Linked DNA regions of Homo sapiens. The protein of the gene in region 1 interacts with the protein of each later gene in a biochemical or structural test. Each region holds a gene or a part of one and is shown in the gene's direction. Other genes may lie near its edges.

The links.
Region 2: the proteins of NPPB (region 1) and POLI form a complex in vitro, tested with the Homo sapiens proteins (one large-scale study listed by BioGRID).
Region 3: the proteins of NPPB (region 1) and NPR3 form a complex in vitro, tested with the Homo sapiens proteins (4 studies listed by BioGRID, with this or other methods).
Region 4: the proteins of NPPB (region 1) and HDAC4 form a complex in vitro, tested with the Homo sapiens proteins (one study listed by BioGRID).

The regions. Positions count from the first base shown.
Region 1 is NC_000001.11:11,854,456-11,861,683, reverse strand, and holds NPPB (natriuretic peptides B preproprotein), read left to right. Parts: upstream 1-2,738; 5' UTR 2,739-2,850; coding exon 2,851-2,982; intron 2,983-3,214; coding exon 3,215-3,470; intron 3,471-4,012; coding exon 4,013-4,029; 3' UTR 4,030-4,220; downstream 4,221-7,228.
Region 2 is NC_000018.10:54,277,863-54,285,259, forward strand, and holds part of POLI (DNA polymerase iota isoform a (long)), read left to right. Parts: intron 1-2,804; coding exon 2,805-3,041; intron 3,042-4,974; coding exon 4,975-5,153; intron 5,154-5,880; exon of another isoform or gene 5,881-5,953; intron 5,954-6,059; coding exon 6,060-6,151; intron 6,152-7,397. UniProt on the Homo sapiens protein: Error-prone DNA polymerase specifically involved in DNA repair. Plays an important role in translesion synthesis, where the normal high-fidelity DNA polymerases cannot proceed and DNA synthesis stalls. Favors Hoogsteen base-pairing in the active site.
Region 3 is NC_000005.10:32,711,657-32,719,053, forward strand, and holds part of NPR3 (atrial natriuretic peptide receptor 3 isoform 1 precursor), read left to right. Parts: 5' UTR 1-120; coding exon 121-889; intron 890-7,397. UniProt on the Homo sapiens protein: Receptor for the natriuretic peptide hormones, binding with similar affinities atrial natriuretic peptide NPPA/ANP, brain natriuretic peptide NPPB/BNP, and C-type natriuretic peptide NPPC/CNP.
Region 4 is NC_000002.12:239,111,844-239,119,240, reverse strand, and holds part of HDAC4 (histone deacetylase 4), read left to right. Parts: intron 1-3,930; coding exon 3,931-4,188; intron 4,189-7,397. UniProt on the Homo sapiens protein: Responsible for the deacetylation of lysine residues on the N-terminal part of the core histones (H2A, H2B, H3 and H4).

The DNA.
Region 1 (7,228 bases):
GCTTACCACAGACATCATCAAATTTAATCCTTGTACATTAATGCTCCAACAGAGGTGTTATGATTAGCTTCATTAAATAGACTTGGAAAGCACATAGCATATGACAGGCCCTCGATAAATGTTGATGGGGCTGATCTGGTGTGAGAGTTAGTTGACAACATATCCTCCTCCCTGGACAGCAGGCCTTGGAGGATGTGTCTAGTTCTGTGTCTTCCTCAAGTCTTCTTCCACAGTCCCCTCCACTGGGGACAGATAGAAACTCTGTCAGAGTGTATGACACTTAGACACTTAATTGTCTCACTTGGGGTCACTTTGTCTCCCCAGTGAGATCACAATCTCCTTCAGTGTAAAGACCAACTCTCATGTACTACTAATTATTTGGCCCTTTATACAGTGCCACGGGCTTTTGCAGATATTATTTTTTTCCTTTTAGTCCTTGCAAGGACTGTCCATTTTGCCGAAGAGCAAAGTGAGGCTCTGGCGAGATGCAGAGTCAGTTTTTGATGGTGCTGGTTGATGAATCCTGCCTTGCTCTGAACCCTTTATCTCATGGTACTCAGCATGAGGGGCTTTCTGCACCCTCAGCAGCCTCTCGCCCACTGACTCCCCTCTGCACTTGGCTGAATTTTCTTACCTCTTTAGCTTCCTCTTAGCCTTTTGATACTCTTACTGTGGCATGCTCATGTGCACGCACACACACACACACACACACACACACACACACAAAACTACCCCAGCCCCCCAGAACATTTCCAGCACTGGTGTCTTTACACAGCCCTTACCCACCCACCTCCATTTATATTTCATCTGCAAAATGCTCATCTGAGCCACTTCCCATTCTTTCTCCTGCACACACAGTCACCACTAGAATTGCACATCCCCCACAGCACAGCTCCCAGAGCCTTCATAGATGACACGGGATTCACCTAAGCTTGCTTTTTGTAGAAACACCTTGTGATCACCCTGGCAGTGATTATGAGCTTCAGGTCTGGAATCAGACTGCTGGCTAGACTAATCAGACTGGTTAGAATCCAGGATTTATCATGTGTCAATTGTGTGACTTTTGGAAAGTAGATTAATTCATGAACACCATTTCCTCCTCTGAAGTGAGGAATAATAACCGTGCTTTTCTCACCTCAGGGGCAGATGCTATTTTTTAGGCAAGATCTGCTTAGAGGTCCCAGTTTCTTATTGCTGCCCTTCTCTGCTGTAACTCTTCTCCCCTCATAGACAGCTCCACTCCTCCAGCCTGCTGCTTGTTGACACCAATTCTCTGGAAGGGGAGTGACATCAGTCATATATGCTTTAGGGGGGTATTTAAGCTGCTATGACTCTTCTCAGGGGCATTTCTCTCCAAAGTCTCACTTCTAATCACCAGGCCACCTGCTAATGATAATTAGATCATGGGTGGTCAGATGAAGGAGGCACTGGGAGAGGGGAAATCCCCATATCTCTGGTATCCCAGCAAATAGATAACCATCATTCCAGCCATCCTTTTGTTTTCTTTCTTTCTTTCTTTCTTTCTTTCCTTCTTTCTTTCTTTCTTTTTTCGCTCTCTGTCAACCAGGCTGGAGTGCAGTGGCGTGATCTCAGCTCACTGCAACCTCCACCTCCTGGGTTCAAGTGATTCTCCTTCCTCAGCCTCCCGAGTAGCTGGGACTACAGGCGCCTGCCACCATGCCCAGCTAATTTTTGGTAATTTTAGTAGAGACGGGGTTTCACCGTGGTCTCGATCTCCTGACCTCGTGATCCGACCGCCTCGGCCTCTCAAAGTGCTGGGATTACAGGCGTGAACCACCATGCCCAGCCTATCCTTTTGTTTTCCATCCTGTGTTGGCTTGGTGGGGGAGAGGAGGTGTTGACACGTGGAGGACACACATATAAGGCATTCTTGGGTGACTTCGTCATCACTGGACCCTATCTCTCAAAATTCCAGCGAAATCTGCTCTTCCCTTTAAGGAGTGAAAGAAGGGTCAGCATTCCAGAAGTTCCTGGTCATACCCAGGCTTTTAATGAATTGCCACTGGGGAATCAGCATCCCGTTGCTGTAAGGACTATAAGATGGCGGATTGTGAGAGCATAGGGAAAGGTCTCGGAGGTCTCTTGTCCTTGCTCCACGCAGGTCTTTCTGGCCTGAAAATCCCGTTGAAGAGAGCAGCTCTTGAGAGTTTGCTCCAAGTTCCCTCGGGGTGATCAGCACCACGGACAGCGGCCAGGGCGCCCCCGAGGACCCGCAGGCAGGCAGGGTGCACAGCGGCGAGCAGGTGCTGCGCTACGTGCGGGCCAGGGAACTCGCGCGGGGAGGGGAGAGGCGCCGCGGGTGGCGGGGTCTTGGCCGGGGCTGTTTTCGCTGTGAGTCACCCCGTGCTCCCCGCGCTCACGTCGGTCCTCGGAAAGCCGGGGTCCTCCCTGCCTTTTCCAGCAACGGTGGGGTGGGGAGGCAGGAAGAAAGCGCCAACCTAGGACACCTGGACATTTGCAGGAAAGGAAGAAGCGGGAGACGGGGACTTGTCTGTGTCTCCAGCGCGTTCCTGCCCCCCGGCCCGACCCGGCCCATTTCTATACAAGGTCGGCTCTGCCCGGTCTCCACCTCCCACGTCGCAGGCGCGGAGGGGCTCATTCCCGGGCCCTGATCTCAGAGGCCCGGAATGTGGCTGATAAATCAGAGATAACCCTGCATGGCAGGGCAGGCCCGACACTCAGCTCCAGGATAAAAGGCCACGGTGTCCCGAGGAGCCAGGAGGAGCACCCCGCAGGCTGAGGGCAGGTGGGAAGCAAACCCGGACGCATCGCAGCAGCAGCAGCAGCAGCAGAAGCAGCAGCAGCAGCCTCCGCAGTCCCTCCAGAGACATGGATCCCCAGACAGCACCTTCCCGGGCGCTCCTGCTCCTGCTCTTCTTGCATCTGGCTTTCCTGGGAGGTCGTTCCCACCCGCTGGGCAGCCCCGGTTCAGCCTCGGACTTGGAAACGTCCGGGTTACAGGTGAGAGCGGAGGGCAGCTCAGGGGGATTGGACAGCAGCAATGAAAGGGTCCTCACCTGCTGTCCCAAGAGGCCCTCATCTTTCCTTTGGAATTAGTGATAAAGGAATCAGAAAATGGAGAGACTGGGTGCCCTGACCCTGTACCCAAGGCAGTCGGTTCACTTGGGTGCCATGAAGGGCTGGTGAGCCCAGGGGTGGGTCCCTGAGGCTTGGACGCCCCCATTCATTGCAGGAGCAGCGCAACCATTTGCAGGGCAAACTGTCGGAGCTGCAGGTGGAGCAGACATCCCTGGAGCCCCTCCAGGAGAGCCCCCGTCCCACAGGTGTCTGGAAGTCCCGGGAGGTAGCCACCGAGGGCATCCGTGGGCACCGCAAAATGGTCCTCTACACCCTGCGGGCACCACGAAGCCCCAAGATGGTGCAAGGGTCTGGCTGCTTTGGGAGGAAGATGGACCGGATCAGCTCCTCCAGTGGCCTGGGCTGCAAAGGTAAGCACCCCCTGCCACCCCGGCCGCCTTCCCCCATTCCAGTGTGTGACACTGTTAGAGTCACTTTGGGGTTTGTTGTCTCTGGGAACCACACTCTTTGAGAAAAGGTCACCTGGACATCGCTTCCTCTTGTTAACAGCCTTCAGGGCCAAGGGGTGCCTTTGTGGAATTAGTAAATGTGGGCTTATTTCATTACCATGCCCACAATACCTTCTCCCCACCTCCTACTTCTTATCAAAGGGGCAGAATCTCCTTTGGGGGTCTGTTTATCATTTGGCAGCCCCCCAGTGGTGCAGAAAGAGAACCAAACATTTCCTCCTGGTTTCCTCTAAACTGTCTATAGTCTCAAAGGCAGAGAGCAGGATCACCAGAGCAATGATAATCCCCAATTTACAGATGAGGAAACTGAGGCTCAGAGAGTTGCATTAAGCCTCAAACGTCTGATGACTAACAGGGTGGTGGGTGGCACACGATGAGGTAAGCTCAGCCCCTGCCTCCATCTCCCACCCTAACCATCATCACCCTCTCTCTTTCCCTGACAGTGCTGAGGCGGCATTAAGAGGAAGTCCTGGCTGCAGACACCTGCTTCTGATTCCACAAGGGGCTTTTTCCTCAACCCTGTGGCCGCCTTTGAAGTGACTCATTTTTTTAATGTATTTATGTATTTATTTGATTGTTTTATATAAGATGGTTTCTTACCTTTGAGCACAAAATTTCCACGGTGAAATAAAGTCAACATTATAAGCTTTATCTTTTGAAACTGATTTGTCTTGGCGCATTAAAAATAATCCCTCATTTCAAAGAAACCAACCCAACTAAAACCACAAAGCCCTGTGATCTCAAGGCATCTTCATGGTGGGATGAGGATGTGGCCTCAGAGGTAGCAGGCTTTCTTTTCTTTCAGAGTTTTTAATGCTCTGAAATGTTATTGAATATCTCAAGCACTTGAGGCACTTGGGAGAAACTGCTTTTCAAAGCAGGGCAGGATACGTGTGCAACCTGAGGGCACGTATCCAGCCGTTTTCTCCACTCGTCCTTGCTCTGCCTGGAATTCCACCATTAAAGCACTCTCCCTGGGGATTATTGCTTTCAGGTCTCAGCTAAAATGTCAACGACTGGGGGCAGTGTGTGTGGGTGTGGCTCATCTACATTCCCATACCGGGGTGAGCCCTCCATCCTGCCCCAAATATCAGCTTTGAAACTCCAATTCCTGGGGTCATCCTGCAAAGGAGCCTTCAAAACTCCAACCCACAAAGTGAGAGGGGTCTGGCAATCAGCCCAGCTTTCCAGGGTGCCCCTCCCCTGGGGCTGCATCATCTCTTCTCTTTGCCTTAACCAGTGGGGAGGCTGTCTCTCCTATGGGTCCCCTTCCCACACACCCTGCAATCCAGGCCTCCGCAGTGCTGAGTTCCTCTCCTTTCAGATTCCTGGGAAGGGCCTCATGTCATTCGCTTTCTCACAATGCCATTTATAATTCCAGCTCAGCTGAGGGGTAAGGCACCATGAGGTCCACTATTATTATGTCCATTTTCCAAATGGGAAAACTGAGACCCGGGAAAACTGAGACCCTGGAAAACCAAGCGTCCTATCCAAGAGCACACAGCGACTAAGCGCTGGTGTGGGAACTGAGCGGAGATCCAGGTGACTCTTGAGCCTGTGCTCTCTGACTCTTGAGCCCCACACTCCTGCCCTTGAACTTCACTCTCAAGTCTTTTCTGATGTTCTCATCAGATGTTTCTTTGAATGAGAGTGACCTAGAGGGTGGAACTTTGTGTTATTTATCATTTTCACCCAGTGTGCATCTGAGGATTTATGGATATCTAATGACATCAATTAAGATTGTTTAGACTGGGTGCGGTGGCTCACACCTGTAATCCCAGCACTTTGGAAGGCCGAGGCCAGAGGATCACCTGAGGTCAGGAGTTCGAGACCAGCCTGGCCAACATGGTGAAATCCCCTTTCTACTAAAAATACAAAAATTAGCCGGGCATGGTGGTGTGTGCCTGTAATTCCAGCTATTCAGGAGGCTGAGGCAGGGGAATCGCTTGAATCTGAGAGGTGGAGGTTGCAGTGAGCTAAGATTGCACCACTGCATTCCAGCCTGGGTAACAAGAGTGAAACTCCATAATCTCAAAAAAAAAAAATTGTTCAAAAACGAGGTTTTAGGCCAGGGACAGTGGCTCACACTGTAATCCCAGCACTTTGAAAGGCCGAGGCAGAAGGACGGCTTGAGCCCAGGAGTTCAAGACCAACCTGGGCAACATAATGGGACCCCCATATCTTCAAGAAATGAAAATGAAAAAAATTATCTGGGTGTAGTGGTGCATGCCTGTGGTCCCAGCTACTCAGGAGGCTGAGGTGGGAGGATCGCTTAAGCCTGGAAGCGGGGAGGCTGCAGTGAGCTGTGATTGTGCCACTGTACTCCAGCTTGGGTGACAGAGGGAGACCCCATCTCAAAAAACAAACGAACAAAAAAAGAGAATAAAAGAAATAAAAAAGAGGTTTTAGGGGCAGCTTATTTTTCCACCAACTGTGAGTCATGTCTAATGCTTCCAAACCGGGGAGAGCAATGAGTAATTAGAATAGTTAATATTCATAAAGGCCTCATTCATGTACCAGGCACAGTCATATAGACCTCACAACAATGAAGGAGTTAAATTTCTTTTTTTTTTTTTTTTTGAGACAGGTCTCACTCTGTCATCCAGGTTGAAGTGCAGCGGTGCAATCTCGGCTCACTGCAACCTCTGACTCCCGGGTTCAAGCGATTCTCTCGCCTCAACCTCCTGAGTAGCTGGGAGTACAGACATGCACCACCACCCTCAGCTAATTTTTGTATTTTTTGTAGAGATGGGGTTTCATCATGTTGGCCAGGCTGGTCTCGAACTCCTGGCCTCAAGTGATCCACCCGCCTCGGCCTCCCAAAGTGCTGGGATTACAGGCTTGAGCCACTGCTCCTGGCCTGGAGTTAAAACTCTTACATCCCTCTTTTTACAGATGGGGAAACCAAGGCACAGAGATATATAACTTGTCAATGTCATGTAGTTAGCAAGTGGCAGAGCCAAGATTCGAGGACCCGTACCCCTAACCACTGTCCCACCCAGCTTTTTCCAAGCCAGTGAATTAGGCTTGTGGGTGGGATGGAGGTCCCCCTCCTGGTGGCATCACTCAGTTCAACATCTGGGCCACTGCCTGCTGGTGGCCTTTCCCCTCTGCTCAGGTGATGAGGACACACCCCTCCCAAAATACTCCCCAAACCCAGCCAGCACTTTCAAATTCCTGCAGATGAGTCTGGCTCATCCATAAATGGGGCTCAGATGGTGGAGGCTGTACACACCATACATCCTGTTACTTGGGTCCTTTCCCTAAGCAAGGAAAGAGGACCCCAAAGTGACCTGCGAAGGAGCCAAATGTGACAGTTGGAGCTGGGTAGCGGTAGCGGGCCGCCTGCTGTACCCAGTGAGTGACATCTCATCAAGCTCTCCACGTGGTTGGTGTTTGCAGGCAGCTTTGTGGTACACACACCGCATGTAGATGCCCTTAAAACCAGCCCTCCCTAACCATTCCCCACGTAGCTGTAGCCATGGCCTTAACCTCCCTGACTCCCCGTTACCAACCTTGTCTCCCAAAGAAGCTGCCAAATGATTTATCTCCATAGACACTTTTTTTTTCTTTCTTTCTTTCTTTTTTTTTTTTTTTGAGACAGAGTTCTCTGTTGCTCAGGCTGGAGTGCAGTGGCATGAATACAGCTCACTGCAGCC
Region 2 (7,397 bases), on another chromosome or scaffold:
GGTTCTTATTCATTCTACCTACTAACCAAAAGTACATACATTTCTTAATGTTCAGTGAGTTCGCTGTGTGATTCTGAAAGATTCATGACTTTTGTTGGAGGTATAGTTATATTTAGTCAGTAATCTGTCTAGGACAGCTAAAATTAGGTGCTGCTATTCCATAATAAGTGTTAAGATTTTGATGACATGTAGCTCAATGCTCTGTGCACTTTTCATTTGCACAGAGCATTGTTCCTGTTCATCTGCACAGAGCATTCATCTGTGCAGAGTTTTCGTCTGACACAGTGCATTGGTTCCCATTTTAGAAAGCCATACCCAGCTGGGCACAGTGGAGCGCCCCTGTAGTCCCAGCTGTTTGGGAGACTGAGCTGAGAAGATTGCTTGAACCCAGGAGTTTGAGTCCAGCCTAGGCAACAGAGCAAGATCCCATCTCTTAAGGAAACAAAAAGCCATACCTCTGTAGGTCATTCTTAAGTTGTAAGAGTTGGCTTCTTAATATGCTTTTTGGAATAATTTTTTATTATTCTAAAACAATCTCTAAGCAGAGTTTTCAGGTAGGCTAGATTTGCCTTTGATGTGTCTTTTACATGTTCCCTTCGATTCCCCTTTGATGTGTGTTTTACATGTTCACTTCGATTCCCCTGAGACCCTCATGTTGCTCTCTGAATTCCCAAGTTAGCACTTTTGGAATGTTGTCCAGGGCTATCTGCCATGTGCTAGAATCTTCTCCAAGCTCCTATTTAATCTGTTCAAATAATCTTTGTCAAAGTTAGCAAGAAAGCAGAATGGTTTGTCTCCTTCATATATTGAGATATGAATGACTGATGGTGTTTCCAGTGATATTTACATTTGAAAATAAGCTGCAGTAAGCACCAGTGAATATCTGATTAGGCTTTCAGACATCTTATGACTCTGCTGGTGACTCCCCTATCATACCACATACAAGACAAGGTACTCTGCTGTTGTGTAAGACTTGTCTGACCCTTTTGCTCTTAAGCCTCCCCATGCATTTCCTCTTATCCTCTTTTTTGAGAACTAGACATCGGTCTACAGAATAGTTCTCCACAGAAGAAAAGCAGTAGAACCACAGTTTCTAGAATACATGGAGCTTTTCCTGTATCTTTTGTACTTGTGCTCATTTGTAACTTAAAAGGGCTAACTAGCAAGAATATTTCAAATATATTTCTGTATAATTTTTAAGGCAAACTTGGATTTTATTGGTTAGAGTACATTATAGAGAGCTAGGTTTTATATCCCAAAAAGGGAAATGTGGAATTATTGATTAATTCTTCCTCTTTCATACAGATTTTATTAAAATTTTTTGTAAACCTACAGAAAAGTTGACAGAATAGTACAAAAAATACCCATTATGTCTTTTCTTTTTTTTTTTTTTTTTTTGAGACAGAGTCTCACTCTGTCGCCCAGGCCGGAGTGCAGTGATGTGATCTCGGCTCACTGCAACCTCCACCTCCTGGGTTCAAGCAATTCTCCTGCTTCAGCCTCCCGACTAGCTGGGACTACAGGCATGTGCCACTACACCCGGCTAATTTTTTTATTTTTAGTAGAGACGGGGTTTCACCATGTTGGCCAGGCTGGTCTTGAACTCCTAATCTCAGATGATCCGCTTGCCTTGGCCTCCCAAAGTGCTGGGATTATAGGCATGAGCCACTACTCCTGGCCCATTATGTCCTTTCTTGTAGATAAACCAGTTGTTATCGTTTTGCCACATTTGCTTTCTCTTGTTCTCTCTATGGATTGCTTGGTTGGTTGATGAGCTATTTGGAAGTAAATTGCAGACATCCTGACATTTCATCTCTAAATACTTTTAGCGTTAGTCTCTTTGAGGTTAGGATGGTTTCATGTCATTCCAACACTGTTTTACACCTAAAGCAAATTTATTTTTATATAATTTTCTTACACTTTTCATAAAAGAGCTCTAAAACTGTGTACAGGTCAGAGATTGTTTCTAGCAGCATATACTGCTAGTGCGTGGTTAAGATTTAGATCTTTAAAGTATAATGTTAGCTTTCTTGTTATATAATAATACTTCTATGCCTACTTACGGGTAAATATGAGTAAAAGTTTTGCCAATGTCAGTAGGAATTTTTTTATGAGATCAGTTTTCACAATGTGTTAATTATTAAGCACTCCCACTACACAGTCACTATCACAGGCCCTTGGAATTTGCTTATTGAATTTGTTTACAGTATTCCTATGAAGCATGAAAGAGATTAGTCAAGTGGATAACAGGGTGGCAGTGATCTCTTAGTCCATTTAGTGTTGCTTTAACAGAATACCTGAGACTGGGTAATTTATAAAGAAAAAAAGGTTTATTTGGTTCATGATTCTTGTGGCTGGAAAAGTCAAGGTTAGGCCTCTGGTGAGGGCCTCAGGCTGTTTCCACTCATGGTGGAAGGCAAAAGGGAGCCAGTGTGTGCAGAGATCACATGGTGAGAGAGGAAGCAAGGGCTGGGGGAGGTGCCAGGCTCTTTTAACAACCAGCTGTCTTTGGAACTAATACAGTCAGAAACTTACCCCTGAGGGAGGGCTTTAATCTATTCATGAGGGATCCACCCCTGTGATCCCAACACCTCCCATTTGACCCCACCTCCAACACTGGGGATCAAATTACAACATGAGGTTTGGAGGGGACAAATATCACAACCATACCAGGTGATGATGGTGGTGGTTGTGGTGGTGGTGGTTGTTGGATATAGACTAAGCCCTCTACCTTTTAAAAATTATTTTGTGAAAAAGAAAAAGGTTTTTCTTGTGACTTTGAATGACATTTGTTGTTTTTAAAGCTATAAACCTGCTTGACGTCTTGCACATCAGACTACTTGTTGGATCTCAGATTGCAGCAGAGATGCGGGAAGCCATGTATAATCAGTTGGGGCTCACTGGCTGTGCTGGAGTGGCTTCTAATAAACTGTTGGCAAAATTAGTTTCTGGTGTCTTTAAACCAAATCAACAAACAGTCTTATTACCTGAAAGTTGTCAACATCTTATTCATAGTTTGAATCACATAAAGGAAATACCTGGTAAGACAAATATATTTGAAAAGTACATATACGTCTTATTTTATTTCTTTTAATTTAAAAAATTATAGATACAATGTAATTAATTCTTAGGTAGAGTTGTCTGTGAGTTTGTGTGCATGTGTGTGTGTGTGTATACTTGGTTCCTGGAAAAAACTAAGAAAAACTGTAATGTTTTCTCAAGCAAATTTGGATTAAGAAATATGTGAAGGTACTTTTCTTATTTTATCTACTTTTGTATGGTTAGAATATGGTCATGAAAGTTATAGCCTAGAAACATATGGTCCTTTATTTCCAGTCCCTGGGTCATACTCTTATACTGTACATTGCCTCTAGAGAGGGGAGTTCGTCTTTTACTAACTCTTTTGGGATTACATATAAAATATTAAGGCTACAATGGACTTTCCAAAACATCTAGGCCAAGGTCCTCATTTTAAAGATTAGGAAACTGATTTCCATGAGGAGTTCGGTGACCTATTTAGGTCATGGGGCAAGTTTGTATCTTTGAAGATTAAATACCCAAGTTTTTATAGGCCATCAATATGTTGAACTACATTTCTGTGGTATTGCTAGGGAATAAGATGTTATAAAAGAGTTCTGTGGAAGTGAATTTCTAATACCACTGAAACTTAGATGTCATACTTCACATTTTTAACTGATACTTGCGTGATTCCAAAATGTATTATACACTGCCTTGCCTTCCTTAGTATAGTATAACTATAATTTGAAGTTTTTTGGATGACTTTGGTAGTGCATTCTGAAGAACAATGTCAGGTTGTAATAAACTGAGGACTATATACTGGTGCAAAACATTCTTACTTGGCTTTACTTTCGAGTTCTTGTATCTTTTTTTTTTTTTTTTAACAGGCTTTCTCCTTTCTCACTTATTGCCAAATTGCCAACCTTCTTTTTTTTCTGCTGTGAAAAATCTGTCACTCTACTTTAATAGTTCCCCCTACATAGCCATCTCCTCCAACTTACTGCTTTTACTGTGCAAGAAAACCAGATAACTGTGGAATTACTGTTTTTGAATGAAAAGAATAAGGAGACATTAAATAGCCTGTTTTCTCTTGTGAATAAAGTATGACCGAATTTTAGTGCAAGAACTTTGTGACAGTTTTGCTAGCAAGATTTTTTGTTTGTTTGCTTTCTGGCTCATAGTTGTATTCTGGATGGTAAATGTTAGATATGACTTATGGATAAATGTGTGGTGGTGCGTATAGGAATCAGTTAGGTTACCTAATATGTACACTTAATTTATTTTAATTGCTCTAGTGGCAGCCTTTTTGTATATTAATAATAATCATGATTTCTGAATATTTCTGGAATATTACATAACAGGTGGTAAAATTTTTGTTTTAGTAAGACAGCATTTATTGGCTGTCTCTGTATTCATTTTATTTTACTGCATTTTGTGAGGACTTCAAAGAGGTGCATATAATTCAGGAGCCCTGAGTGGAAGAACAGCAACCTAGTTTGCAATGGGGTTTGATCTTTGCAAAATACAGTAGTCCCCCATTATCTGCAGTTTCACTTTTCACAGTTTCTATTACCTGCAGTCAACTGTGGTCTGAAAATAATAAGATATTTTGAGAGAGAGAGGCAGAGACCACATTCACATAACTTGTATATTGTATATTGTTATAGTTCTGTTTTATTATTATTGTTAATCTCTTACTGTGCCTAATTTATAAATTAAACTTTATCATAGGTATATATGTAATGGGAAAAACAGTACTGTATATATAGGGTTTGATACTGTCCATGGTTTCAGGCATCCACTGAAGGTCTTAGAATGTATCCCCTGTGGATAAGGGGGGACTACTGTATAAATTATAGAACTTAAAGATAAGATTGATATATTTATAATATTTTAATTAGCTTTGTTTTAAGGAGAAAAGCTATTTTAACATTGTATGCATTTCTTTTTATTTAGGTATTGGCTATAAAACTGCCAAATGTCTTGAAGCACTGGGTATCAATAGTGTGCGTGATCTCCAAACCTTTTCACCCAAAATTTTAGAAAAAGAATTAGGAATTTCAGTTGCTCAGCGTATCCAAAAGCTCAGTTTTGGAGAGGATAACTCCCCTGTGATACTCTCAGGACCACCTCAGGTACATGATGATACTTATTTTAATTAAGTACTGGTTATCACATTATTTGAGATAAAGATTTCTAGTTTTAGTACCATGTTCTTACTATTCTAGTTTGCTTAGTATGTGATCCCTTTCCTATTAGAAGGCTGATTTATTATTAATAGATTGGATTAATAAGTATTCTTAAATGGAATCTTAAGCATTGATATTTTGATATCTTAAGTTAGCTACTATGATTGAAGACAGTGCAACTTAATTTTAATAGCCTATAATGCATATATGAGGCAAAATATTTTAATCTGTTAAAAATCTTGTTTTCAGAGTAGTCCAGTGATTTAGCAAATGGGAAAGGTATAATCACCCAGTTAACATTGACTGATTTTTTTGCTATGGGACAAGCACTTTACTGAGTGCTTTAAATATGTTAGTCCATTTAATCTTCACAACAAAGCATCAAGGTAGGTAGTACTGTTGTTTGTCCATTCCTTCTTACTTCTCTTCTTTCCTTCCTTCCTTCCATTCTCTCTCTCTCAAGATGAGGATACCGTACTTTAGAAAGGTTAAATAACTTGTCCAAGGATAAACTTAGATTCAAGTCCTAGGTGATTAAGAACTCTTGCCATAATCATACAATAAAGCTTGGAGTTGGTACTAGAGCTTTAGAGTTTTCATAACTTTGAATTATTTTATATTAACTGTTTTATATTAACTGTTAATACAGTAATATTTTATATTAACTTTCTAGTGAGTACAATAGCTTGCAGATAAAAAACTGTTAATATAAAAGTGAACTAAATGGCTCAAACTAAGGACAAGAGGTAAGTTAGTGAAGAATGTATTGAATATTTATTTGACTGTACACTGATAATAATTAGATATAGTTATTTGAGTTTGTGCTAATCCTTATTTATGCTTCTTTGATAGTCCTTTAGTGAAGAAGATTCATTTAAAAAATGTTCATCTGAAGTTGAAGCTAAAAATAAGATTGAAGAACTACTTGCTAGTCTTTTAAACAGGTGATTTTCAATCCATTTTGCCAAGTCATCCTATGTATTCATTCTATATACGGTATGTGGAAAGAATATTTGATGTTCCATCTTGGAACTGACAGATTATCTGGAGACTAAACAATGTAAAAATAATTTATCATGGGATTTCTCTGCTTTATAAACTGTTGTAAAGATGGTAATAGGGGGTCTTACCTAAATTGAATTCATTGGTCTTAATTCTGTTAACACTGTGGTTATGCTATGGATCTAAAGCTGCAGATAGTTACCTAAAGGGGTTTTATGGATATTTCTAACATTTCTAGACTTATTCTGGTCTTCAGGTGAGAAGAAGAAGTTTTAATTTTTCCCTGTGGCAATTGCAAAGCCTCTGCCCTCAACCTAATAGTTAGTTGCATTTCATTAAGTTAGTACCATGCTAAATACAAATACATGCGAAATACAAAACCCGTGAAATTAACCATTTATCTGTGCCTCTGCTAATAGTTACTTGCATTTCATTAAGAAGAAAAAAATGCAAAGAGGAATAATACTGTCATAATTCTAAAACTCCTGATACAGGAACAACTATATAAATTTGTGATTGTTGAGGATAGGAAATTATTAAAGTAACAGTGATGGAAGAAGCAGAAGAACCCTTGTATCTCTTTTGCCTCAGACTGTAAAATAAAATGGAGTCGAAGGAAAGAATGGCTAGCTGGCGCTGTGTGTGAGTAGGGTGAGTGACTGCAGGTGTGTGCAGGGTTTCTGATCTGTATGTAAAGAGTATCAACTGGGGTTATAAATATATGAGTAGTACAAGATAAACTGAAAAGGAAATTTAATTTTGTGGTGCTCCTTGTCATTATACATGTATTTCTCAATATTCCATATTCCACAGATGAGTATTATCTGTTTTCGTCCCATTTCTTTGTTTCTCCTCTTCTTGTTAGAAATTTCTCAAATTGTGGTTTCAGGGCTCTAACAGTTTAGAGTAGGTGTGCTTCTCTAATGATTCTAGGAGGACTAACTGTATTTAGAGAAAATGGTTTTTGGTTGGTTCTAAGTCTGAGAAAACTGAAGAAGTGAAATTTCCTCCAACTTTGCTGTCGTGTGCAATGTGGCACTCAAATGTCTTGAGCAGAGCCATGCAGCTCATTGTTGGCTGCATGCAGCTGGGGCTGGCTGTATGACTGGCCTCCCGTGATATGACTCAGGCTGGGCCTGCGAGTATGCTAGTGAAACTGGGTCATTTGCTTCAGCTAAATAGAAGACT
Region 3 (7,397 bases), on another chromosome or scaffold:
TTAAAGCGCCCAAGGGGGCGCAGGGACCTTGGAGAGAAGAGTGGGGAGGAAAGAGGAAGGGTGGGTGGGGGGCAGAGGGCGAGTCGGCGGCGGCGAGGGCAAGCTCTTTCTTGCGGCACGATGCCGTCTCTGCTGGTGCTCACTTTCTCCCCGTGCGTACTACTCGGCTGGGCGTTGCTGGCCGGCGGCACCGGTGGCGGTGGCGTTGGCGGCGGCGGCGGTGGCGCGGGCATAGGCGGCGGACGCCAGGAGAGAGAGGCGCTGCCGCCACAGAAGATCGAGGTGCTGGTGTTACTGCCCCAGGATGACTCGTACTTGTTTTCACTCACCCGGGTGCGGCCGGCCATCGAGTATGCTCTGCGCAGCGTGGAGGGCAACGGGACTGGGAGGCGGCTTCTGCCGCCGGGCACTCGCTTCCAGGTGGCTTACGAGGATTCAGACTGTGGGAACCGTGCGCTCTTCAGCTTGGTGGACCGCGTGGCGGCGGCGCGGGGCGCCAAGCCAGACCTTATCCTGGGGCCAGTGTGCGAGTATGCAGCAGCGCCAGTGGCCCGGCTTGCATCGCACTGGGACCTGCCCATGCTGTCGGCTGGGGCGCTGGCCGCTGGCTTCCAGCACAAGGACTCTGAGTACTCGCACCTCACGCGCGTGGCGCCCGCCTACGCCAAGATGGGCGAGATGATGCTCGCCCTGTTCCGCCACCACCACTGGAGCCGCGCTGCACTGGTCTACAGCGACGACAAGCTGGAGCGGAACTGCTACTTCACCCTCGAGGGGGTCCACGAGGTCTTCCAGGAGGAGGGTTTGCACACGTCCATCTACAGTTTCGACGAGACCAAAGACTTGGATCTGGAAGACATCGTGCGCAATATCCAGGCCAGTGAGAGAGGTGAGCAGGGGCGCGTCCCGGGCCCCGGGCCCTAACCCAACCGCTCTCCGCGGCTCTCCCTGCACACTCGTCCACTCTGCAGACCCCACTCCCCACTGCGGCGCTGAGGTCGGGTGCGCGCGGGCACTCGTTCAGGTATGCGCCGTGTGGCTGCGACAACCTTTGACGACCGCCCATCGCGGTGTACGTAGAGGGTCCCAGGGAGGTGAAGGGGTTGGAGGAGAGGGCGTCTGTAGCTCCTGCGTGCCCAGGTCCAACAGGTGCTGTCAAACACTTCGATGTTTTTTCTTCCCAGTTTCCACTTTGCCAGCGCCGGGCTGGTGATTAGGGGGCGCACTCCCAGTGCCTGGCTCCATCCAGGGTCTGAAGCATCCGAGGCGGAAAGAACTTGTTCCCCAGTCCTTTGCCAGCGTGCGCCCCCACTTAGTGCGGAAGCGTCCGCGGACGCCTCGCAGCGAGGCGTCGCCACTTAGCTCGCCCGCTCTTGGGGTTTCTCTGACTGTTGTTTCCACAGACCCCAGGTTTCTTTTAAAGGCTTGTTGACTCACTCTTCTCATTCCTTTCATTTCCCTTCCAGCCCCTTATAAACGAGCTTCTGTGGTTTCCACCAAAAATGCCCCTGTGTGTCTGAATTCTGGCGACACTCACTTCTCCCAGAGTGTTCTGCAACGCAGTTTCTAATGCGCCCAGAGCTAAGCTTTGCGGGAGTGCCTTTTGAAGAAACGAGCGCTGAACCTTCTTTCCACCTGTCCCCCAAGTTTTCTCCATGGGTCTTTGGGTGTTGGAATAAAACCCAAACTGGACAAAGAGCTCGAGGCTGAGGATGGTGGCTATGGCTTCGGGGAGCGGGGGGACGCGGACGTGTAATCGCCAGTGTGGCCCATTTTACGGTAGGGTAGAATCTGAGGGAAGGCGGACTGAGATGCCGGTATAGCGCCGATCCCTCCTCCCTCTAGTCAGGGATTAGGAGCACTGCGATGAGGGAATCCCGTCTCTGCTCCCCCTTGGCGCTCACGCGCCTGGAATGTGAGTGGTGCAATCCCGGCAAAGCTCCCCGAGACCCCAGTGCCACGCGGATGAGACCGAAGGGGAGCGGAGTTGAGCCAGGCGCCGGGCTAGTCCACAACTTGGCATGGCCGAGCACCTGGGCGCTGGTCGTAGGGGACAGCGCAACCTGAGGCCGAAGGCCCCAGGAACAGGTGAGAGTGGACAGAGAAGCCATCGATAATGGCGCTGCTGTCACCGCCTTGCCATCTTGGCCACCTCGGACTCACCCTTTAGAGCAAAGAGGCGAGAGGTGTTTGACAGTGGGAATGCATGGCCAAATTTTGAGCTCTGGAACTCCAGGCTGTCTGTGCCGAATTCCTACCAGCCAAGCAGGCGGGGCGCAGGCTTTGCCGATTATGAAAAAGGGCACGTGTGTCCAACGGCTGCGGACTTGCCACGCCTGCCACGCCTCGGCAAGGAACCCACATCTACACTCCCAAGTCCCAGTCGCCAGGTTACTGCAGCCTCCACGGGGGTGTCTGCGCCCCGGGCTGCTAAGGCTCCCGGAACCTGCTTCTCCAGTTCTCGGCTTTCGAGGGCTAGGCGCTAGAAGTCAGAGACTTCCCAAGGCCGGCTGGGACTGGGGGTGTGTCCCCCTATGGGCGAGATCCGCGGTTTGCTGACTCGTCCGTAATGTCACTACCCTGTAGATCCCAATGTCAGCGGCTGCCCCGGCGCACGTGGCCTGGGATACAAAACCAAGGGCATGTGTGAGACCAGAGGAGGGCAGATCGCGGCCCCGGGGCCCCTCGCCCTCACAGTGGTGGCTGAGGCCTGGGGCTGGGCGGACAGCAGTGCCCTGGTGGGCCTGGGGACTGGTGCGCCCCGGGCTTCTGAGGACTAGGGCTGCAGTCGGCTGTAAGAATTATTTTTTAATTCCAAAAGCCTCATAGACGTTCCGAAGTCTCTTTGCTTTTTTTTTTTTTTTCCAAGTTTGCATTGAGGGGTGAAAGTTTGCTTAACTGACCTGTATATTTTACAAGTGATAAGGTTAGGATTTTACAATTCTTACTCTAAAAAGTATTTCCAACAGTGACCTGGCAGATATTTAGAAATAGGAAACAAAACAGTTTCTCCTCTAATCGTCCTCCAATCGCCTCTAATCATCCTTCCACCCCGAAATTCCTTACACTCGAGAGAAAAAGTTACTTGATAACAAAGCTCTCTTAGGGGACCTTTTAAAAATACATTGAAGTAACACAGTTACTTTACCGTAAGCACTTAATGTATTAAATAGGGCTTCGGTACATGATTGCAGTGAAGTTTCTGGCTCAGTCACCGGCTGGGGGATCTTGGACTGCTATGAAACCTCTGTACCTCGAGCTCCTTAGGTAAAGTGGGGGTAGTCAGAGCACCCACGTCTTTGGGAAACTGTGAGGGTTACAGAAGCTAACCCAGGAATGCCTGGGAGCACTGCCAGAAGAATATGAAGTGCTCAATAAATGTGCGGTTTCATTGTAGTTATTATTTTATATATGATGATAATCACCTTTACCCCAAGGGTGAGGCCATGCCATGGGAAAGAACCCTGGGCTGAGATGCAGATGCCTCTGGATTTGGCTGGCCTCCTTATGTGAGTTTTCTTCTCTGTGAAACAATGTGTGGGGTGAGAATCAGGCCTCTTCAAACTGATATTCTCACCCAAGTGTGAAAATGCAACTGACAGTATTTTTGCTTTTGAAAATTCCCTATTAAGTATTATGAATTAAAGTAGAGAGAGTTCCTCCCTCTTTTGGTGAGAACATTGGTATTACTTTTTTTTTGGACTTAAGTTTCTCTTTAAAACCAAATCACAAATGTTTGAACAAGTAAAAAACTGACCGTGCCAGCATCTCAAATAATAATGCGACTAAAATTTCACATGGCATACTGTAGAAAGAAAAACAGGGGCATCAATTATTCCTTCATTTTAAGGATTTACCATCTAAGTCAATAATTTAAAATCTTTTTTTTTCCTGTCATGTCTTTCGCTAATGCCACTAAAATAAACAGACCTGAGCCTATATTATTTTTAAAAACAATTATCTTTATTTAAAATAGATTCACTTACACAGCCAGCTACTGCCCTCAATATTCCACACACTTAACAATAAATTTAGTTTTAAAAAGACAGGCTTAGAAATAATTTTTTCAAGCAATACAAGCCAGTAGTTGTTTTGTCGATGCACTTTATATGATGCAGAACTAGAAGTATCCTAACGCAAATGTTTTTATGTGAAGAACTGTAGTTTTATCCTTTTAGTTATTAGTATGTCATTAATCTGGGCCTGCATAATGACTGTACAACATTATACAGTCTGTAGAGATAGAGATAACAGTATTTAATCAATACAAGAAACATTTATTTTTAGAATTAGTCTGGGGTAAATGACCGAGTGGTCAATCAGCAGCATTTTTAAGGAAAGAACCCATGATAAGTGTAAAATAACTAACACAGCAGGGGAAAAAAGGAGCTTTGTAGGCTGCACTGTGGAAATTCTAAAGGCCTTTGGAGTAGATGGAGCTTTATGAACAACAGAAATAAAGATGCAATCTCCATTTTGCAAACAATATCCATTGCTATGGAGTGTAGAAACAGCCAGAGAGAAATCTTTTTTGAAAAAAGTTAGATTTACATTTTACCAAAATTTAGTTCTACAGCTATAGAAAGTGAGAAAACTACACAAGGTTTATGAGGAGAAAAAGGTTCCTGTCTCCTACTCTCCATTTTTCACTCTCAATTCTTGTTAGCTCTTCCTGTAGGTATTGACCTTCATATCTCTTAATAACATGCTACTTTTTTTTTTTTCAGTTTTAGGTCTTATCTGTTGGAATCCCAGTGGAAGAAAATTCTCTTCTTGATCATTCTACTGCCTGTTAACCACACATGCAAGCTTTCTTTCCAGTCATCTTTCCAATATGGTTGTGCCAAAATTTTTCTCAGTAGGCTGAGGCAGGAGGATTGCTTGAGTCCAAGAGTTTGAGGCTATGGATTGCCCTATTTGAATAGCCACTGCATTCCAGCCTGGGCAACATAGCTAGACCCCATCTCTTACACAATATTTTTTAGTTAGTTCAGTATTCAGTATAAATATTATCATTACTTTCTAAATGATATTTAAGGTTAAGTCACATAGGCTTCTATGTTGACATTTCCTTTTTTCCCCCTACCTATTTTCCTTGGAGTTAAAACAGTCTGTTTTTGTTTATTTGCTTAATTTCCTATGGATTTATAATTAAATAATCTTCTAATTCTTTATTTTAAATCTCCTGAGTGTTTTTTTATTATTATACTTTAAGTTCTAGGGTACATGTGCACAACGTGCAGGTTTGATACATAGGTATACATGTGCCATGTTGGTTTGCTGTACCCATCAAGTCATCATTTACATTGGGTATTTCTCCTAATGCTATCCATCCCCCAACCCCCCCACCCCCCACCCCCTGACAGGCCCCGGTGTGTGATGTTTCCCGCCCTGTGTCCAAGTGATCTCATTGTTCAGTTCCCACCTATGAGTGAGAACATGTGGTTTTTGGTTTTCTGTCCTTGCGATAGTTTGCTGAGAATGATGGTTTCCAGCTTCATCCATTTCCCTGCAAAGGACATGAACTCAGCCTTTTTGTGGCTGCATAGTATTCCATGATGTATATGTGCCACATTTTCTTAATCCAGTCTGTCACTGATGGACATTTGAGTTGGTTCCAAGTCTTTCCTATTGTGAATAGTGCCGCAATAAATATACGTGTGCATGTGTCTTTATAGTAGCATGATTTATAATCCTTTGGGTATATACCCAGTAATGGGATTGCTGGGTCAAATGAGAATTCTAGTTCTAGATCCTTGAGGAATTGCCACACTGTCTTCCACAATGGTTGAACTATAATTTACACTCCCACCAACAGTGTAAAAGTGTTCCTATTTCTCCACATCCTCTCCAGCATCTGTTGTTTCCTGACTTTTTAATGATTGCCATTCTAACTGGCATGAGATGGTATCTCATTGTGTTTTTGATTTGTATTTCTCTGATGACCAGTGATGATGAGCATTTTTTCATGTGTCTGTTGGCTGCATAAATGTCTTCCTTTGAGAAGTGTCTGTTCATATCCTTTGCCTACTTTCTGATGGGATTGTTTGTTTTTTTCTTGCAAATTTGTTTGAGTTCTTTGTAGATTCTGGATATTAACTCTTTGTCAGATGGGTAGATTGCAAAAATTTTCTCCCATTCTCTAGGTTGCCTGTTCACTCTGATGGTAGTTTCTTTTGCTGTGCAGAAGCTCTTTAGTTTAATTAGGTCCCATTTATCTATTTTGGCTTTTGTTGCCATTGCCTTTGGTGTTTCAGTCATGAAGTCCTTGCCCATGCCTACGTCCTGAAAGGTATTGCCTAAGTCTTCTTCTAGGGTTTTTTATGGTTTTAGGTTTAACATTTAAGTCTTTAATCCATCTTGAATTAATTTTTGTATAAGGTGTAAGAAAGGGATCTAGTTTCAGCTTTCTACTTATGGCTAGTCAATTTTCCCAGCACCATTTATTAAATAGGGAATTCTTTCCCCATTTCTCATTTCATCAGATGGTTGTAGATGTGTGGCATTGTTTCTGAGGCCTCTGTTCTGTTCCATTGGTCTATATATTTGTTTTGGTACTGGTGCCATGCTGTTTTGGTTACTGTAGCCTTGTAGTATAGTTTGAAGTCAGGTAGCATGATGCCTATAACTTTGTTCTTTATGCTTAGGATTGTCTTGGCAATGCCAGCTCTTTTTTGGTTCCATATGAACTTTAAAGTAGTTTTTTCCAATTCTGTGAAGAAAGTCATTTGTAGCTTGATGGGGATGGCATTGAATCTATAAATTACTTTGGGCAATATGGCCATTTTCATGATATTGATTCTTCCTATCCATGAGCATGGAATATTCTTTCATTTGTTTGTGTCCTATTTTATTTTATTTTATTTTCATTGAGCAGTGGTTTGTAGTTGCTGAAGAGGTCCTTCACATCCCTTGTAAGTTGGATTCCTAGGTATTTTATTCTCTTTGTAGAAATTGTGAATGGGAGTTCACTTATGATTTGGCTCTCTGTTTGTCTGTTAATGTTGTATAGGAATGCTTGTGATTTTTGCACATTGATTTTGTATCCTGAGACTTTGCTGAAGTTGCTTATCAGCTTAAGGAGATTTTGGGCTGAGACAATGGGGTTTTCTAAATATACAGTCATGTCATCTGCAAACAGGGACAATTTGATTTCCTCATTTCCTAATTGAATACCCTTTATTTCTTTCTCCTGCCTGATTGCCCTGGCCAGAACTTCCAACACTATGTTGAATAGGAGTGGTGAGAGAGGGCATCCTTGTCTTGTGCCAGTTTTCAAAGGGAAAAACTGCTTCCAGTTTTTGCCCATTCAGTATGCTATTGGCTATGGGTTTGTCATAAATAGCTCTTAGTATTTTGAGATACATTCCATCAATACCTAGTTTATTGAGAGTTTT
Region 4 (7,397 bases), on another chromosome or scaffold:
TTGTTCTTTGCTCTCCCTCCGGTGCACCGAGTGATAAGGGCCCCGCTCTCAAGAAACCTCCCATACACCACTCAGTCAGTCACATCCCGTTACACATCAGACTGCACCGGGCCCTGGGGGAGCTGCAGGAACTGAGCGTATGGGTGCCCTCTTGATGAGTGTCCTGAAAGCCAAGACTTGGATGCCATCTTCGAGGTCCCCTGTGAAACAGCGCTGCTTCACCCGGCGCCCCTGCTGCACCTGGCACCCCTGCTCACAGCGACAGCGGTACCGCCAGGCTCCCTGTTCTCCCTGCCCCCCACAGGGCCTCTCAGGCTCTCAGTGTGCAGGAAGAAGATGGGACTGAGAAACCAGAAGCAATCACAGACCTCAAAATCATCAAGTGAAACTAGTGTTGAAACACATGCTTTTTTTGGTCAACCACTGAGAAACCTGTCAGAGCAAATGGGGACAATGTTGCTAGATTCCTTAGTTGAACTTGTTTCTCCCCGGCTTTGTGAAAGTCTAACCGGAAACAGTCGCATGTATTTACAGCGTACGGCGTGATGATTTGATACTTGTATGCGTTGTGAAATGATCGCCACAAGGGACCTCATCCATGCCCCCTTGGCCTCACGGGGCTCTCATTGTGTCTGTGGTAAGGTCCGTGAATATCGGGGCCACCAAACTGTGCATCAGGTCCCGGAACTTATTCCTCTCCCAACGGCACGCTCACCCGTGGACAGCACGTTCCTGTTCCCGACGCGCGGCCACCCACCGCTGCACTCTCCTCCCTGCGAGTTTGGCTTTCTGAAGCTGAGTTCCTTACGTGCCACGCCGCCTACTGGTTCCCACACTGCCGATGGCCGGCCCGCCCCGACACCCACGCTGCCTGCACCCGGCTGGACCTGGCTCCATTTCCCTGTGCCAGGTTGAAAGCTTTTCTGAAGAAAAGCTGCCTTCGGTTTAGAGATAAACAATGGATCTGCGTTTTCTTCACTCGGCTTTTACTGCCGTACTTTAAACTGCTCTTAGAAAGAAAGTTAAGGGATGATCAATCATAAAACAAACCCCCCGCCCAATCTGAAGTCTCTGATGTTCCACAGTGAGGCACAGCAGGGCTCTGGAGGCTGAAAACTCACCATGTTGTGTGTGTGTGAGTCTGCGTCTCAGCCCTGCTGCGTGGGGACCGGTGTCGTCTGATACGGCTGACCCCTGGGAGCAAGCGGACACTGAGTGCCCACCAACCCGTGCCCCGTAGTTCAGGCTGCTGGAGAGGCCGCCTCGCGTGAGTGTGGAGCAGCATGCAGTGCTCTAAGGGTGTTGAAATGCAAGGGCTCGGGGGATTTCAGGTGTCAGTCTTCCTTGCACACCTCAGTTTCCTTCTGGAAACAGTCGGATGCGGTGCCGAGATCCATCCTCCACGCGCTGTAGCTCCTCTCTCTGCCAGGAACTCGGCTTGTCCCACCGTCCCTCGAATCTGCCCTTCAGGCCGTTCCCCACGGGGACAGATGAATCGAGCATCCGGAGAGACCCCTCGATCTGGGACTTTGGGATTGTGGGACGTTCTTTCACAGTCTGCAGAGGAATGCAGCTCAGTCAGTGCCTTCTTCTGAGAAACTCCCTGTGCGCCCTTCCTAGTCTAACTCCAGACCCCCGCCCTCTCTCCTGAGCTTTTTTTTTTTTTTTTTTTTTTGCCACTTCCCGCATCCCTCTCTCCCCTCTTGTTCTCAACTCCAGCCTTTGCTCTGCTCACATTCATCCCTTTTCTGGCTCCCAGATGTGATGGGGCAGCTCCATTGCCCAAAACGAAGGAGTTGTCCTGGCCACCCTCTCTTGCCTCTCCATATGCAGTCTGTCCCTGGGCCTAGAGCTGCTTCCTTTTTGGTGTCATGGAAACCTGTTCTTTCTCCCATGCCTTAGCCAGACGTGGGGCTGGCCTCACCCTTTCAACCTCTGGCCTGTCTGCAGCAGGGCATGCTTCTAGAACGTGCACCTGCTTGTTTTCAGCCCAGAGTGCCCTTCCCACAGCCCCACCTCGTCTCCGGCACCCTGTGTTCCTGTTCTCTGGCCTTCCACGCTGCAGCCCTGCTGGCTTCCCACAGCTCCCAGAGCGCATTGAGGTCAGCCATACACCCTGTTCCACTTTGCCCCACTACGCGGACACCCCTTGCATTTGCCCCATCCTTTTAGTGAATGTGCGATGAGCAATGCCTGTGCCACGTGGATGAGTCAGAAGTGGTCCCTACCCTCCTGGGAACTGCAGACTGCAGGAAAGATGGATACATGAATGGCAACCACAGAAAAGCCAGAGGACTGGGGTCGGGGGGTGCTGGAGGAGGGCACATTGCCCTATCAGGAAGATCAGCTGACCCTGGAAAAGGTGACATGCACGGGAGGCTCACAAAGCCTCTTGGAGTGGCTGGAGGCCGAGGAAGGAAGGCAAGCAGCGGGCTGGAGGCGAGTGTGGCATGAGGGATGCAGAGCCAGCGGCGTGGTCGGGAGCAGGGTGGCAGGGAGGCTGCAGGGGCAACATGGCCACACGATGGAGGGGCTCTTCAGCAGAGGCAGGATGGCAGAAGAGCACTTGGGGGACATTCAGCAGGGGAGTGACCAGGTCCACTGGCCCGTTTGAAAGCGTGCCCTCACTGCTACATGAAGAAGATTGCAAAGCGTTGACGCTGGAGGTGGGGGCCTCCCAGGAGCCATGCTGTCATCCAGGCAGGAGAGGCCAGGTGGGGCAAAGCAGGAAAGGCAGGAGGTCGAGGCTGGAGAGAAGCAGCACCGTCCAGAGGCGTTTCTCGTGAGCAATGCATGGGCAGTGCTTGGCGGACAGAATTGGGAGCTTGGGGTGTGACTGGACAGCTGGCCAGAGAGAGGTCCCAATAGCCAAGAACAGGTCCTAGAGAAGGGAGAGGCTTGGAAGAAGCTGCCCTGCGTTCGGCATTGGACCTGCTGTGCTGGGGCTCATGGGCACTCTAGGCTAAGCTGAGGCGTCTGGCAGGCCATTAGGTCTGGAGGTAAAGAGCGAGTTTGGGCTCAGCACCACCTTTGGGAGTCGCTGATACTTGGAATCCAGAATGGGGAAATGAGCCGAGGAGCAGGCCCAGGACAAACCAAGACGGAGGAGCAGGCGGGGAGCAGGAGAGGAGCACCTGCCGCCTGTTCCGCACTGAGAGGCCGGGGAGGGAGACCGAGAAGCGTCCGTGAGATCCAACAGGAAAAGAGGTCGGGGGCATCTAGGGAGTCCCACAGGAGGGAGGATGTTGCGGTTCTTGGGGCCCCATAGCGGGGCAGGTCATGGAGCACCCATGGAATCCTGCAAGAAAGGAGGTCATGGTGTCCCTGAGATCCTGCAGAAGGGGAGGCCGTGGCATCCCTGGGATTCAGCAGGAAGGGAGGTCCTGGAGTGTTCCCAGGATCCGGCAGGAGGGAGGTCATGGCACATCGGTGGGATCCTGCAGGAGGGGAGGCCGTGGCGTGTTGGTGGGATTGGGCAGTGAGCATTGTGGACGTGGTTGTCTTCCGCTGAGTGGGTGGTGGGCTGTTTCTCTTAGCAGTTGTGGCTGTGAGGTCAGCATTGGCCTCTCCCCTTCACACTCAAGCTCTCCTCTGCAGACTCTGTTGACACCTGCAGCTTCTTTTCTGTTTCTCGGTGCCTGACACAGAAGAGGTGCTTAGTAAACCCCAAATGTTAGTCAGCCTCCTTCCCTGGGCCAGGTCACCTTGACCCTGGGCTGGGGTCCTACTGGGCATTATTTTCTTAGGCACTCAGGCACCCCAGTGCCTGTTGGGAGATAAAGGTGCCTGCTGGCCTGTGGCAGGGTGATAAGGTGCCCTGAGTCCCTGATTGTCTGCCCCAGAGGGTGGGGTTTGCAGCATCCCTTCTCCTGTCAGATGAGCTCAGAGGACCCAGCTCTCTGTGCTTCATGTGTTACCTCCGCCTTGCAGATCATCCCCAAGCCAAGCGAGCCAGCCCGGCAGCCGGAGAGCCACCCGGAGGAGACGGAGGAGGAGCTCCGTGAGCACCAGGCTCTGCTGGACGAGCCCTACCTGGACCGGCTGCCGGGGCAGAAGGAGGCGCACGCACAGGCCGGCGTGCAGGTGAAGCAGGAGCCCATTGAGAGCGATGAGGAAGAGGCAGAGCCCCCACGGGAGGTGGAGCCGGGCCAGCGCCAGCCCAGTGAGCAGGAGCTGCTCTTCAGACAGGTGACCGCAGGCGGGGAGGGCACCAGAAGGCTGGCACGCACAGCCACCCTCGGTCCCCAGGTGGCATCTTCTGTGGTGATCACGGGGGCTGCAGGGCATCCTTGCGCGGTCACTGTCCAGTGTCTCACCTGTCTTGTCCTGGCCAGTGAGGGAGGTTGATGTGGCTTCCATTTTGTCCCAGCCGTTCCTAGGGATACGAGATGTTTGCCCCCTGTGGGTGGTTACGTAACTGCTTTCCAGCCATGCGCAGGCCCCAGAGAATGGATTTCCTTCCTGTCTGTAGGCTGTAAATGAACACAGAATCCATGTGTTAGTGAGATACAGCATGCTTTTTAAAGAAGTGAAGGAACTAGAGGTATTAATTGATCAAAAAGGCAGGCAGGGCCTGATCAGAAGTCAAGACCTTTTGTGACCCAGAGGTGCTAATGAGCAGCCCTGCAGATCCAGACAGACGGGTGCGATTGTGGCACCCAGAGCCAGTAAGGCTTCAGGGCACTGACACCCAGTAACCAAACTCACAGGAGACTGATGAAGAAGGCCAGTGAATGACTGGTTAATTTCCATTGAAACATTAAACTTCTGAGTCAGCAGAAATACCTAAGGCATTTGGGCAGCCAGCTGGAGCCCCGTATCTGCAGCTAGAGTGCCCTCAGGAAAGTGGCTTCCTCCCTGTAGGCAGGAAGCCAGTCCGAGGAACCACAGCTCTGTAGGATTTGATTCTATCCTCCAGCAGCAGAGCTGCTGCCTCGGCTGCAGGAGCCACTGGCTCGTTCCCTCCCTTCTCTCTGGACTCCATGCCGGCCGTGCCGTTGAGCACCTCCCCAGCTTCCTGACTGCCAGCTGTGTGGCCAGACGCTGCATCTCCACCCCCAGCAGCACCTTGGAAGCCAGGAGCAGGACGCCCTGCAGTAAACTGTTCCCCTTAATTCTCAGCTACAGTTCTTAAATGCTTGCCACTGAATGAATCAGTGTGGGGCCTTGTACCTGGAGCACCTAGACCCAAGCCTGCCACACACGGGATCAGTGCTCAGTGGTCTCCAGAGGCTTCTGGGTCAGGAGCCCTTCTCCACCGAGCTTCCCCCAGTGGCTGGCATTGGGTGCTATTTCTCCTTCTTGTTCAGAGGGGGGCCTGTCTCTAATTTCTGGGCCTTCTTAATTAGCACCCCGGGCACTAAACACTACAAAGCCCAGCAGAACTAACGCTTGGCAAAGACAGAGAGAGAAAGCCCCGGGCCTCTCTGGCACACACACGGTGCTTCATGGTGAACACTCGTCCACAGGTCCTGTCCGACAGGCCCAGGGTGGGGGCCTCTTCCTGTGGTCGGGCCTTGTAAGTTGATGAAGATCTGAAATTCAGTGTGCTATTATTAGGCTGATAAGAAATGGGAAACTATTTACATTAATAATTTTTAGGGCTAGTTTCTCATAGATCAGCCTTTACTTTGAGAAAAAGAGGCTTGTTATATTCCAAGCATGAGATGATTATTAGAAACACTTATTTTCTGTTCTCTCTGGAGAGTAATAGGCAGAACCCCTTATCAGGGAAACGTCGTAGTACACGGAGCAATTTGCCGAGGTAAACATAAGGCGGGGCACCTCCAGCCCGCGTCGGGGAGGATTGCTTATTAACCACTTAACCGCGTGGGGCCCACGGCAATCCCAGCTGAATTTGGTCAGCAGCAGACTGGGGGCCTGTGGGTGCTGGCTCCTGCTCCAGCTCCTGCTGCAGCTCCTCCCACTGTCTCAGGGCTTCCTTCTTCTCTGCTCCCTCCTGGCTCTGATTCCTTTTGTGTGTGTGTGTGTGAGACAGAGTCTCACTCTGTTGCCCAGGCTAGAGTGCAGTGGTGCCATCTCAGCTCACTACAGCCTCCGCCTCCTGGGCTCAAGCAATTATTCTGCCTCAGCCTCCCAAGTAGCTGGGATTACAGGCACCCACCATCACGCCTGGCTAATTTTTTGTTTGTTTGTTTGTTTTGTTTGTTTGTTTTTTTGGAGAGATGGGGTTTCACCATTTTGGCCAGGCTGGTCTCGAACTCCTTACCTCAGGTGATCCACCCGCCTCAGCCTCCCCAAGTGCTGGGATTACAGGCATGAGCCACCACGCCCAGCCTGATTCCTAAAGGCAGGACAGATCGGAGCCTGGCCGGGTAGCTCTGGTTTCCCCCAGTGCTGGCAGCACAGGGCTGGGCTCTGCCTTCATACAGGAGCTGGGATGTAGGTACCTGGTTTTCCATGTTCACAGGATTTGTTCATCAAAACTAAGACAGGATTGGCGCAGAGCTCCCAGCAAGGAGGCGCCCGGCTTTCTTTGTGCCTCGGCCTGGGTGGCAGGTTGCTGTGCTCTCCCTCAGCTGCTGTCTGGGGAGAGGCTTGGCAGCTGTGACCTCATCTCTGCCCTGCTCCCTCCACTCCACTCTGCCTCGTATGGGGGTTTGCACCTCAGCCTGTTCCCAGAATCCCTCAGGGTGTCCCAGGCCCCTGGCTGAGTGCCCCCCCCACACACAGAGCCCAGCCCAGCTCCATCTCATCAGAGAGGCACATCCCCACCAGCAGGCCTGCTCTAGGCCCCAAAGGTCCTGGGTGCCCAGAAGCTGATGGGCTGTTACTGCTTTTAGCCTGCACGAGGGTGTGTGGGATGTGAGACCAGGGAGGGGAGCGGCTGCAGATGAAGCCCAGTTGGCACTTTCAAGTCTGAGAGCCGATGGTGCTTTCTCGCCCAAGTTTGGCATGCAGATTCAATGCTGTTGGTCAGAACTAAGACCCACAAACCCAACAAGGGGGTTGGGCTTCGTGCCCACTCACCGTATGTGTGTGGTATGGCAGAGTGGACGCTGTGGTCCCCACATCTACATGGCCTTCGCATATCCCCCAGTGAAACCAGCGAGGGCCAGGCTGCCGCCCCAGCAAGAGCTTCTCTCCACACCTGCCAGGCCCTACTCCCCTGCACCTGCTCCAGGCTGCTCCTGGCTCAGCACCTCCTCAGAGAAGCCCTCCTTGATACCCCATACTGGGCCAGGCCTCCCTGGGACCCCCTGACTCAACCTGTGTTATCCTGTTAACGTAACCCATGGCAGGATCCCACGTGGACAGCCTGCCTTCCCTAGAGAGACCGTCCTGGGAGGCAGAGCCTGTGCTGGCCTCGTTCTTGGCTCTGGGCCCACTCAGGCTTCAGGGCACTCACAGGGAAGGCCTCTCCACGCAGCTGGCCT